Homo sapiens: one gene and its partner. Each later gene encodes a partner of the first gene's protein in a complex. Each region holds a gene or a part of one and is shown in the gene's direction. Other genes may lie near its edges. The genes, in order: SPINK1 and PRSS1.

Region 1 (4,862 bases):
TCAGGAACTCTGACTAGGTTTGAATTCTGAATTTAGGAATTCCTTAGCTGGGTGGCCTTGGCTAATTTTATTGCTTTGTGCCTCATTATCTTCACCTGAAGAAGAATATAATACTTAGTTCACAGGATAGTTAGGAGGTTTAAACAGAATAATATATAAAAAGCACTAGAACAATGTCTAGGACAATGACAATCATTTGATGATTATAAACTCTTACTGGAGTAGAATGCAAAGACTTCCAACACCCGACAATGCCTAGTGCCTTTAAGTGCCTAATAGAAGACCAGTGTGTGTGGACTACAGTGTACAAGGAAGAACGTGCCCCAAGATGTGGCCAACCTGAGAGATGCCAGCACCCGCAGTAATTGCAAACTTGAACATTATCTCACCCATCCATGTAAATCTCACAACAACACTATGAGATAGGTGGGAAATGGTAATATCATCACTGTTTTGCAGATGAACTGACTGAGTTTCAGAAGGGCCATAGGACTTACTAATGTCACACAGCTTAGAAATAGCAGAGGCATGACTTAAAACAAGGTTTTCTGTCTCCAGATAGTAGGTTATTTCTCTTACAACACACAGTATCATTCTCCCAATCACAGTTATTCCCCAGAGAAATAAAACCATTTCAGAGATTTTGCTATGAACTCAAGAATGGAGAATAATGGGAAATGATTCTGTTTAATTCCATTTTTAGGCCAAATGTTACAATGAACTTAATGGATGCACCAAGATATATGACCCTGTCTGTGGGACTGATGGAAATACTTATCCCAATGAATGCGTGTTATGTTTTGAAAATCGGTGAGTACAAACTTGAGTTTCTTTTAAACTATATATTTTAAGTTAGTTATCTTCAAGTGTACTGATAATATGAATCTCACCCCGAGAAAAGCAAACTATTTACTTTTTCCAAAAACAGTTATCTCTTTCTTATTCTCCCTTTTATATATTTAGCATTAAATATTATTTTTTAGAAGTCACTTGTATGATAAAAGCCTATATTTTTTACAGCAAAATAGTCGATAGCTTGGATTTTTATAAAGTACACACAAAATACCTTTAATTAAAAAAATTATTAGTGGTTGCAATGATTGTGTTTTTTAAAGCCCTCAGTTATGCAAATATAAATTGTATAGATTATATAACCAAAAATATATTTTTACTTATGGATATGAAAGCCAGTTTCAGTAAAGCTTCATTTCCTCAGTGACCATAAGTAGGTGATGTGATACAGAGAAATAGATTCAACACAGATTTCCTATCTCACTCAGCAACTGAAACCTTAGCATGTCTCAAGCATCATGCTAATATTCCCTGTCTTACTTGTGCTTATGACTAAGAAAACATCATGAGCATGTATAGGATGGCTTCTTATAACTTGGGGCAAATGCCAGAAGATGAGGTGTAAATAAAGTGCAACAGGAGTGAAGCAGAGATACATATTTTTTATTAAAAGGGGCCAAGAAAGGATCCATGAAAAGAATAGAATGCCAGCCGGGTGCAGTGGCTCACTCCTGTAATCCCAGCACTTTGGGAGGCCGATGCAGGTGGATCACCTGAGACCAGCCTGGCCAACATGGTGAAACCCCATGGTGGCGGGCGCCTATAATACCAGCTACTCAGGAGGCTGAGGCAGAAGAATCGCTTCAATCTGGGAGGCAGAGGTTGCAGTGAGCTGAGATTGTGCCACTGCACTCCAACCTGGGTGACAAGAGTGAGACTCCATCTTAAAAAAAAGGAAAAAAAAAGAATAGAATGCCATTTAAATAGAGTTCTGAATTTTGGCAATATCAAAAGAGCATGCCAGGTTAAATAAAGGTGTGGAATGAACAAAGCAAATAAAAGGGATTCCACGAGTGACTTTAGTTTTTCTGAGATTGACTTGATATTAAAGACTTTGACTCAGGCTCAAATGACTGTGTAAATTTCCATTATATTCTACTGCATAAATTCCCTTTTCTGTAATGCAAACCTTCTTCTTGGGCTGTTTTAAACCATTTTGGAAAATTCTCAGAGTTTAGCAAGTATTGTGGAAATAGGACCTCTGGATGAGAGGTCTAATATCCTGAAGTTTTAGACCCAAAACATTAGGTATTCTACTTTGTAATAAATCTGTTTCCATAATTAAGACTTGTAAAAAGAATTTGAAGCCACCTGTTAGTTTTCTCATGACCCATGTTCTTGACATTAAGCTCAAACATCATATTTCCATCCAATGGGAGGAGAAAGCAAGAGAACAACAGCTTTGAGACTTGGGAAATTTCCAAGTGCCGCTCAACATTTACAGTGAAACATTAGAAAAATATTAGTAGAGGGCTGGAACACCCTATCTGCTTAGCCTCTGAAACCTCCGAGTTTCTGCTTATTCTTTCTATTTGTTCAAAACTATGTAAATATGGGAGGCACATTTGTATGCTAGAAAACATGACCTCTCTTCCTATATTTCTCAGATAAGAAAATTTAGGTCTAGAGACAAAATGTTGCTTTCTCAAATACAACATATTTCCTAATGTATGACATTGCCTTTTTCACTGTTGATTAAAAGTCCCAAACTTATTACCTAGTAACTAAAGCCAGACGCTGACCCTAGTTTGAGACAAGTAGATAATACCAAACAAGGGCTTGCAAATCAGTCTTTTTGGTGATTATGTGCTTGGCAAATATATTCAATAAACACTTTTTCTATTCCTTCTACGTCTTCAAAGGGAATCTGTACCGGCAAATTCTTTTCCATAAACCTGCATCTCCAATAGAACCTTCTATAATGATGGAAATGTTCTATGTTTATGCTGTCTAATACATAGCCACTAGCCACAAAACAGTAGCCTTAATGTGGCTAACACTAACTTAAATGTGGCTAGTAAAACTGATCAGCTGAATATTTAATATTATCTAAACTAATTTACATTTACATAGCTATATGTGGATAGTGAATATATGAAACTAGAGTGAACAGCATAGCAACTCTTGTTTATTCTGTTTAGGTGTGTGTGCTTATGTATGCTAACTGATTTGGAAATCAGTATTAATGAGCAGTTAATGATTGTGGGACAAGAAAGCATTAAAAAATCTTAAAGAGTTTGGCTGGGCATGGTGGCTCATGCCTGTAATCCCAGCACTTTGGAAGTCCCAGGCAGGTGGATCACTTTTGTTAGGAGTTTGAGACCAGCCTGGCCAACATGGTAAAACCCCGTCTCTACTAAAAATACAAATATTAGCCAGGCATGGTGGCATTCACCTGTAATCCCAGCTACTTGGGAGGCTGAGGCAGGAGAATCACTTGAACCCGGGAGGTGGAGGCTGCAGTGAGCCAAGGTCACACCACTGCACTCCAGCCTGGGCAACAGAGTGAGACTCTGTCTTAAAAAAAGAAAAAAAAGAAAAAAAGAAAAGAAAAAAAAAAGAAAAAAAAGTATATGGAAGTCAGATGTCCTTCAGTAATAGAGAAGTAGAAGAATTTTTGTAAGCCCGTACATTCAAAGAAAAAATGGTTAGAAAAATTAAAGACCTGGAAACAGTCTTCTAGGGAACAATTATAAAATTTAGAGATATTTAGTTTAGGGAAGAGAAAACTAGTTTGGTAATGGTAGTGTGGGGCGAACAGAGAGGTTTTATCTGGAGGGGAGGATGTTTAGAACTGGCAGGAATCATGTGGAATAAATATGTGATTTACTTTTGTGAGACCTCACAGATACGAATCCCCAGAGCTCTAAGATGAAAGGTCAATCAATTAGAAGGTCCAACAATAGCTCAGGCATCAGCTGAGATGGAAACCTGGTGGCGAAGGCAGAGGCATCAGGAGCAAAAGATGCAACAATAGTTTTGAGTTTAATTTCAGGGGTTCACTGTAACACCCCACGAGATCTGTAAAAACTGTAAGGACAGATATTTTTCCTTTCTGTTGTATCCTTAGTGTATTCAACAGTAATCAATAAATATTTGATGAATTAATGACTAAGTGAATGTATAAATGAATGAAAGACAGAGAAAAGATTATAAATCTCAAACCTCTCCAACTTTAAATGAAGCTGTTATTTTTCCCCCTGTTTTTCTCCCATAGTCACTTTTTCATCAGTGAAGTTTAAGCTGATATATTTTTTTTAATCTCTACTGCAGGAAACGCCAGACTTCTATCCTCATTCAAAAATCTGGGCCTTGCTGAGAACCAAGGTTTTGAAATCCCATCAGGTCACCGCGAGGCCTGACTGGCCTTATTGTTGAATAAATGTATCTGAATATCCCCTGTTGTTTCCATTTGCTTTTTCCTCAAAGGTATGTTTGATTATACCAGGGTCAGGGGACTTTGGTAAGACTGAGAATAGACCAAGTTTTAAAAACATCAGGAATCCTGTAATTTCAGACAGGGTTTCCCTCATAATTCCTTTTCTTTCCTCATCTTTCTCACATCCTGAGGTCACTGCCTTAGAAAATGTGATTGCAGATATTAAATGGCAGAGCACAGATGATCATGAATACAAGAAATTCTTTGAGGACTGGACTACTATTTTAAGGAACAATTGGAAAATACCCAGTCCAGAAACATGTTACCCATCACAGTCTGCTGATTGCAATAACTCCTTTAGGTTTCCTTGGGATTTGATTGAGCATCTATTGTGGCTGGCACAGGTCTACGTGCATGGGCATAGAGCTGCCTATATGGTGGAATAGAGTTTAGTCTTTGAGATTTTCCACTTATCTCAGAATGTAGATTTTGGGTCAGACATAATTGTCTCAAAAAGATTTGAATCATTGAGAAAACAAACAAAAAAAGTACATTTTCTTAACAAGGCTATGGAGCAGCTTCTGGACTTAGCCTTAGTTCTTCCCCAGCAGGGCCAGTTCCCCATTAGTTA
Region 2 (7,662 bases), on another chromosome or scaffold:
ATAAGAAAATTAACTAGATTATTCTAACAGGAAAGGAATAAGCACTTCAAACTTTATATTTTTTATTCTTGTTTTAAATTTATGTTTTAGTTGCGGGGAGGATACAAAAAGATTAAAGGACACAAAATTACAGCTAGATAGGAGGAATAAGTTCCAGTGTTTTACAGAACTGTAGGAGGACTACAGATAACAAGCATTGTATTTGAATAGAAAGGTCCATATGTCATGTGCCAACCCCGTTCTGCTGCCTTACCCAAGACTGGGAAATGGAACAGATGATATGGGTTCTATAGAGAGGCAAAGTGCAGAACCTGCTCAAACACAGTGGCCCTGGGGTGGAAAGTTCTCAATTGGAATTGTGTTGGTGCCTGTGTGGATGGAGCATTCAATTCTGAGCCTTAGGAGCCTTTTGAAGGCCCTCCTGGCCAAGATGATCTTGAGGAAATGACTGACCCATTGGCTGCCTTCCAAATGGATGACACAGTCTAGACTTTTATAAACTACATGAGTAGAAGGAACCCAGTTGACTGGATTTATCACCAAACCTAGCTTGTGAGCCTCAGTCTAGAGCTAGCATAATTTAGAAAAATAAATGCATACATCATATATTAAACTCTGAGTATCATGAAACAGATCCTAGATGTTACAATAATAAGAACCTACATGGGTGTTTCTCCTGCACTCTGTCCTGGCTTTCTTCTGCTTCTTGTCTAAGGGAGCCTGGACTCACTTAAGCAGCTCTAATAGGCCAAACAAGAGAGTGGTCAAGGAGTGGCTGAAATGTGAACAGAAAGACTCACCATTATATTAGAGCAATCAATCTATCCTTAAAATACTGTGGGTTTAGTGTCAAGTGCTAGAGGCTTCCCCATTTACCCATACATGGAAGCCTGAAGAATAAACAGAACTATAAACTTCCCTCTGGGCATAAAACTTGCATGTCTTCCATGGCTTCAAGCTGGGGAGCAGCTGGGCAGGCAGAAGGAGGGGCAAGAGGCAGTCAAGAGGAGGGGCGGGAGGCAGGCGGGGAGGAATGGGCTACTCCGTTTAGCTGATCAGCCTTGACCAGTTCATGCTCTGGGACTCCATCTTACAAGTCAGACTTTTCCGAGTCACACAGAGCACTCCCTTCACTCTCCAGATTCAATGATTCCTGGGATGATATAGTAACGAAAATAATTCCTTATTGGATAAAGAGAAATTGTGCTGTGCGGGAGATAAGTAGCTTAGAAAAAAAAATGGATGAGGAGAGGAGCTGGGAGTTTGGGGGTAAGACAGCCTAAAATCTGACAGTCTGGTTGGGGAACGATAAAAGATACTGGAACCCAAGGAGGAGATCAGTAAGAATGTAGGAGAAAGATCTGGTGGGATTTGGAGAAGAAAGTGTTAAAAAATAAAATTGGAATATGACAGTTTGCAGACTACTAGGTCTGAAAGACGCAACTCTGTAGCAACATGAAGGGGAACAAACTTTGTCTGAATAGGGAAGTTTCTAGTATGATCTCTGCTTTCCTTAGACAAGTAACCCTGGAGAAGACACTTGACCTCTGAGCTTTAGATTGTTCATCTGTAAAAAGGAGAGAACAATATCTGCTGCCTACCACCTCAGTGAGGCTGCACTAAGGATCAGCTCAGAGGAGGCAAAGCAGAATGCCCTATTGCACAGCATGGAGGCCCTAGAGTCGGACCACCATACTTACATCCCATCTTTAAAACCTCCTGGCTGTGTGGCCTTGAGCAAGCCACTTCACCTCCAGAAAGTTCATTTGATCATCTGTAAAATGGGCAATCCCATAGGTGGTTGTGATGATAAAATGAAAAAAACATTTTTAACTTACATGAGTTACATGCTGTAGAGTAAGTTATGTGGTATATAGTAAGCACACAGAAAAGACTCACTGTTATCAAAATTAAAGGAAAGTGGTTTAGTGTGCTAAGCACTAAATACAAGCCAGAGAGATGTCTTGAGAAGTAGACAAAGAAATCTACAATTCAGAATGAACAGTAACAAGAATGACATGTCCTCCAAATTGAGCTTTGGCAGCTGGATCTGAACCTATCCTACACATCTGAGTCTACAGTATGAGGTAACAGTCTCCACCTATAGCTATCTTCTCTGCCTGTAAGGTCATTCCTTTCTGAAGAAAGCTGACCTCAGACTATTTTGCGATCATTTAAGGAAGAGCGCAAAATACTGGAGAAGGCTAGTCTTCAAGCTCTAGATACAGAAAATCCTCAAATTCTTGGGTGTTCCCTTTCAGACTGAGAGTCAGAGCCACAAGCACTGATCCAAAAATCCCCTTTTCCAAAAAAATTTTCCATCTTCTACCAAGGTTCACCTCCCTGTTTAGTGCACACTAGTATCTACAGTTGTTAGAGCAGGAGTCTCTCCTTATCCTCTAAGGCAGGTGTTCTGTGAAGACCCCATGACAAGGGACAAAATGAAACAACATGTTCAGGGACAACAAAGGAAAAGCCCATTTTATCAATGCTCCAAAACCTGGCTACCTCAGGCTTGGCAAGTTATTCGTGAGCAGAGAAGTTTGTCATCTACATGGCAGTCATGGCCTGGATGGGTCTCGAACTGTGGCATGGTAATGCTCTGAGACTAGGTGCCAGGAGAAAGATAAATTCAATCATCCATTTCTACCAGGAAGAAAAGCACCAGGAAGGAATCAGATGTACAGTTTGTCCTCTAGGGACCTCTGTCTTGATCCTCAATAAATCTCCTTTTAGATACCTCCTCTTAGATGAAATTCCCACACTTCACAATGCTCTCCATGGCTTCTGTTGGCCTTATGGTCAGCTCTGCCAAGATCTGTATTCTTGGGCAAGACAGAATCCTTCTGAATCTCAGTCTCTTGCTCTATAAATGGAAACAATTTTGCTCTGCACAAATTACAATTAGCATGTTTGTGGGAAGTTAAAGTGTGAAACTCAGCATAAATGAAAAGTAATGTACCACTGTTGCTTACATGAAAACTCTTGTAAAGTTGTCAGGCACTGTGCACCATCTAAGCATAGCAGTGTTAGGTATGGGCCCATTAGTGATTAGAGGGGGTGCGAGGCGGAGAGGGGGTCTCCAAGCAGTGGGTCTCCTGGCTGTGGGGAAGCTGGCTCAGCAGCCATACCAGGAGCTGAAACCGAAGGTACTCTGTGTGTCCTCTCAACACCATGGGCCCCACTTTGGCATTATTTCCAATTCCCTCTGGTTTCCATTTGCTTCCTCCCTCTAGCCCCCTGGCCAGGTCCGATTTCAACACCAAGTTTCTGAGCTTTTCCCATTTTGTCCACCGTCTCTAGAACATTTCTGCTTCTTTTACCTTTCAAAGAATCCAAACTTGAACTCTACTTACTCCTGCCCATCACCAGCCTGAGCTCAGAGTTGCTGAGAAGGGAAAGCACCCTCATAAGGAAGCTCCTCCTTTCCCTACATCATTAGACTTGAGCACAGACAGCATCTCCATTTCCACACTGCTCTGGCCAGGTTGTGCCTCAGTCAATTACACAACTGTGTCTTAGTAGCCTTGGTAGGGCCCAAATCAGGATATTCTCTAGGAAGATTCACTTTGTACTGAGCCAAGCATAATCTCACTGCATCGAAAATAGAAAATGATCATCTGATCATTCTGGTTCAGACTGTCAGCCCTGAGCAGGTGGGTCAGTTTGCATCACCTGAGTGCAGATTGCAAGGACAACAGTGAGGCTGCATAAAAAGAACCTATGACAGGATGCACATGAGAGAGACAAATGTCTTCACATTGAAGAAGGGGAGGAGTGCGCCATTGGTTTTCCATCCTCCAGAGGCACTGAGAAAGCTCCTACAGAAACTGTGCCCCCTCCTTCTTTGAAACACTTCCCATCCTTAAGCCTTGGTAGGAAGGAGAGAAATCTGGAAGCCCAGAATCCTATGGAATGCTGAGTCTCCCTTCTCCTTACCCCTTAGTGTTGGAATTTTCATTCCCCAAAATCTTGCATTTGACCTTCCTGCACACTGACTGGAGAGAAGCATCTTCATATTCACAGGAATGAGCCTTAGATAAGACTTTGCTCCTCTCATGTGGGCCCCAGGAAACTGAAATCCAAGCTTTTTACCAATGCTTGCCCTTCCTTAAGTACATTAAATACATTCCCAATAGGTGGAAAGATTTGTAAACAGCTAGGCCATTCTCCCTCCTTCTAACCCTCATCTCCAGGGCCTAAGAAAGCCCAGCTCTGTTATCTGGGGCTTGACTTTCCCTGTCTTCCCCATCCCAGTATCCTTGCAGGAAACAGCCGGTCTCGCTCTCTGCTCTCAGAAGGAAAGTTTCCTTATCACCTGTGAATCACAAACCCAGAGAGTGGCCAAACATAGCCAGGCTGATGCAAGACCCTGGGAAGAGGAAAGCTGCAGGTGTGTTTGTGCTGGGAGGAGTGGTGACCCTCACCTCACAGTCACCTCCTCTCTGGATCCTCGTGAGGTATAAAGACGAGTCCTCCACCACCAGTCAGGCACACTCTACCACCATGAATCCACTCCTGATCCTTACCTTTGTGGCAGCTGCTCGTGAGTATCATGCCCTGCCTCAGGCCCCAACCACCCCCCCGTTCCTGGCCGACAAATGCCCTTCCATTCTTACCACCTCTCCTCTTTTGACTGTGCTCTGATATTCCGTTTCCTCCATCTGGCATATCTCCTTCCCATCCTCCTTGGGCTCTTTTTAAGTCTCACCTGTTCACCTTCTCCTTGACTTCACTCCCACCACTGTCATTCATCCATATCCGAGTTGTGGTTGGAGAAGCTGGGAAGGGGGCCAGGTGGGGCTGTCCCACGAAATGAAGCAGCAGGCTTCAGGCTTGGCTCCAACAGCAACAGAATAGCACCACTATAGCTGCTCCTAACCTCGAATGCACCTGGGGAGGTTGAAAAATTACTCATGCCAGAGACTCAGCTCTAGAAATTCTAACTTCAATTGTCTGGGGTAGAGCTTGTGTTCTGGGCTTTTAAGCTTCCCAGGTGATTTTTAATATTTCCAGCCATGCAGCCAAGGTTAAGAATTGCTGTCCTATTGGCCAATAACAAAGTCTACCTTTGTTCTGCCAAAGTGAGCCTGGGGGCTGCCCTCAACTCTGCCCTGACTGCACAGATCTGAGCTATGGGGGAAGGTGGTCATGGCCAGGTCTATGCAGACAGGGGGTTTTCCTAGCTTGGCAAAAGAATCCTGACAATCCAGGGCCCAAATAGCCAGGGGAAGTACACAGGTGATGAATAAAAGAGAGAAGCACTCAGTGGGAGAGACAACCACATCCCAACTCCTATCCCACTGGAAGCATTGTGAGGACATTCCTTGCGACTTCAGCCTGGTGACCCCAGGAGAGCTCGGATCCTCCGCAGGGTACCTAGCTATGTGCCCTGCAGGCACAGAGACTTGGGAGCCACAGGCAGTGATGATCACCAGGGGTGGCAGAGCTCCCTCCCTTGCCTAGCCTCACTGTGCTTGTTAAGGATTTCTAATTAGCAGAAAGCAATCACAGGCTGGGAGCGCCACCCCTAACATGCTATTGACTTGCCTTCTCCCTTCCCATCTCCACTCCAGTTGCTGCCCCCTTTGATGATGATGACAAGATCGTTGGGGGCTACAACTGTGAGGAGAATTCTGTCCCCTACCAGGTGTCCCTGAATTCTGGCTACCACTTCTGTGGTGGCTCCCTCATCAACGAACAGTGGGTGGTATCAGCAGGCCACTGCTACAAGTCGTAAGTGTGGGGCCCCCGACTGCAAAGCTCCCGGCCAGTCTGCCTGGGAGAGCTTGGCTTCAGCCCAGGGAACTACTGAGGTTGGGTAAGATGGATGGGAGAGGTGGTGGAGAAGAAAACTTGTTGGCAGCTGCGGACTCTCCAGAGCAGAGAGTGAACACAAGACAGGAACCTCTCACACCCAGGCAAATCCATGAAACAGCAAGGGTTGTGGTCATAAAAGCAGGCAGGGATGATCTTGGGGTGGTGAGAGCTAGTGAGAAAAGCAGGCAAGTATCTTTTGCTGGTTAGCTACACATTAAAGCCAACTAAGAAAGACTTTTTAAAAATACAGATGCCTTTGTCCTATCCCAGGGCAATTAAGTCAAAATTTTCAGGAAGAGGGTGTGAATATCAGTGAGAATTTTACACTCTACCTCTGCTAACTGTAGAGTGTATAGACAGAGCTGAGAACTGCTGCCTACACCAAGAACTCTCAAACCTGAGTATGCATCAGAACGCCCTGCAGGCTTGTTAAGGCACAAATCACTGGGCCCCTTCCCCAAGGTTCTGATCAGTAGGTGGGGGTAAGGACCAAGAATTCACATTTCTAACAAGTTCCCAGGAGATGCTAATGCTATGGCTACCCTTGGATTAGATTACACAGAAGGGTGGTTCTCACCAGGCCAAGAATGGAGGGAGGAACAGGCACTGTGCACAGTTGGCAAAGGCCTGGGGTGAAGAACGCTGGGAAAACTTCAAGGAGCTCCTTGTGCCCACAGTGCTAGTGACTGTGGAGATTGTGGGAAAGAGTCTGGGGAGGCAGGTTGAGGAGCAGCCTCTGGTGGGATCCCTTTGACTCTTCCCCACCCCACTACCACCAACCTCTGGAGCAGATAGGTCCTGGGTCTCATACCTTCACTGACCCACATCCCTCTGCTGCCCATGCGATATGGCCACACACCCCACCCCATGCCTCCAGAGCTGTCCATGAGCAGAGAGCTTGAGGAACCTGGGGAAGGTGGGATAGGTGCCCTGGCTGTGGGAGAAGGTCTTCACCATGCCTGCCCTGCCCATCAGCCGCATCCAGGTGAGACTGGGAGAGCACAACATCGAAGTCCTGGAGGGGAATGAGCAGTTCATCAATGCAGCCAAGATCATCCGCCACCCCCAATACGACAGGAAGACTCTGAACAATGACATCATGTTAATCAAGCTCTCCTCACGTGCAGTAATCAACGCCCGCGTGTCCACCATCTCTCTGCCCACCGCCCCTCCAGCCACTGGCACGAAGTGCCTCATCTCTGGCTGGGGCAACACTGCGAGCTCTGGCGGTGAGTGGGACCCTTAGTCCTTCTACTTCCCTCCATCCTCACAATTTCCAGAACAAACCATGCCCCTTAACTTGAATCCTCTCACCTCCAGGCTTAAGACACATTTCGAGTGCCCATTACACACAGACTCTGCACTGGGCACCAGAGAGATGCAAACTATCAAGGACTTGGCTCCTAAAATCAAGAGACAGGACAAATGGAGAACTTGATATGATCACATCTTGGGAGGGGTTCAACAATGATCATTCTGGGAACTAAAAGCCAGAGTCTCTTGCCAGGACTTATGTTCTGGAGTCCTCTCCAGGGGCTGTGTTCCTCTTCAGTTTTCCATCCAAGATTATTGTCTCCTTCTCTGGCCTGACCCACATTTCTACTTCCTTTGATCTCTTCCTGATCCTCACAGCCGACTACCCAGACGAGCTGCAGTGCCTGGATGCTCCTGTGCTGAGCCAGGCTAAGTGTGAAGCCTCCTACCCTGGAAAGATTACCAGCAACATGTTCTGTGTGGGCTTCCTTGAGGGAGGCAAGGATTCATGTCAGGTGATTTGACCAACCCTTCCCATGCTGAGGCTCCCACTGATACCTAGGCCCCACCAGGGAAAAGGATTTGAAC

What was found.
Region 2: the proteins of SPINK1 (region 1) and PRSS1 are in contact, whole or in part, in a crystal structure (PDB 7QE9), measured with the Homo sapiens proteins. Residues at the interface, in NP_001341895.1 of Homo sapiens: Tyr33, Glu35, Leu36, Asn37, Gly38, Cys39, Thr40, Lys41, Ile42, Tyr43, Asp44, Pro45, Pro55, Asn56, Val59, Phe62; in NP_002760.1 of Homo sapiens: Tyr45 (codon at 5,669), His46 (codon at 5,672), Phe47 (codon at 5,675), Cys48 (codon at 5,678), His63 (codon at 5,723), Cys64 (codon at 5,726), Lys66 (codon at 5,732), Arg101 (codon at 6,896), Lys102 (codon at 6,899), Thr103 (codon at 6,902), Leu104 (codon at 6,905), Tyr154 (codon at 7,458), Tyr175, Lys178, Asp194, Ser195, Cys196, Gln197, Gly198, Asp199, Val214, Ser215, Trp216, Gly217, Asp218, Gly219, Gly227.

What each region holds. Positions count from the first base shown.
Region 1 is NC_000005.10:147,823,970-147,828,831, reverse strand, and holds the end of SPINK1 (serine protease inhibitor Kazal-type 1 precursor), read left to right. Parts: intron 1-703; coding exon 704-810; intron 811-4,125; coding exon 4,126-4,171; 3' UTR 4,172-4,250; downstream 4,251-4,862. UniProt on the Homo sapiens protein: Serine protease inhibitor which exhibits anti-trypsin activity. In the pancreas, protects against trypsin-catalyzed premature activation of zymogens.
Region 2 is NC_000007.14:142,744,979-142,752,640, forward strand, and holds the start of PRSS1 (serine protease 1 preproprotein), read left to right. Parts: upstream 1-4,493; 5' UTR 4,494-4,506; coding exon 4,507-4,546; intron 4,547-5,576; coding exon 5,577-5,736; intron 5,737-6,795; coding exon 6,796-7,049; intron 7,050-7,452; coding exon 7,453-7,589; intron 7,590-7,662. UniProt on the Homo sapiens protein: Has activity against the synthetic substrates Boc-Phe-Ser-Arg-Mec, Boc-Leu-Thr-Arg-Mec, Boc-Gln-Ala-Arg-Mec and Boc-Val-Pro-Arg-Mec. The single-chain form is more active than the two-chain form against all of these substrates.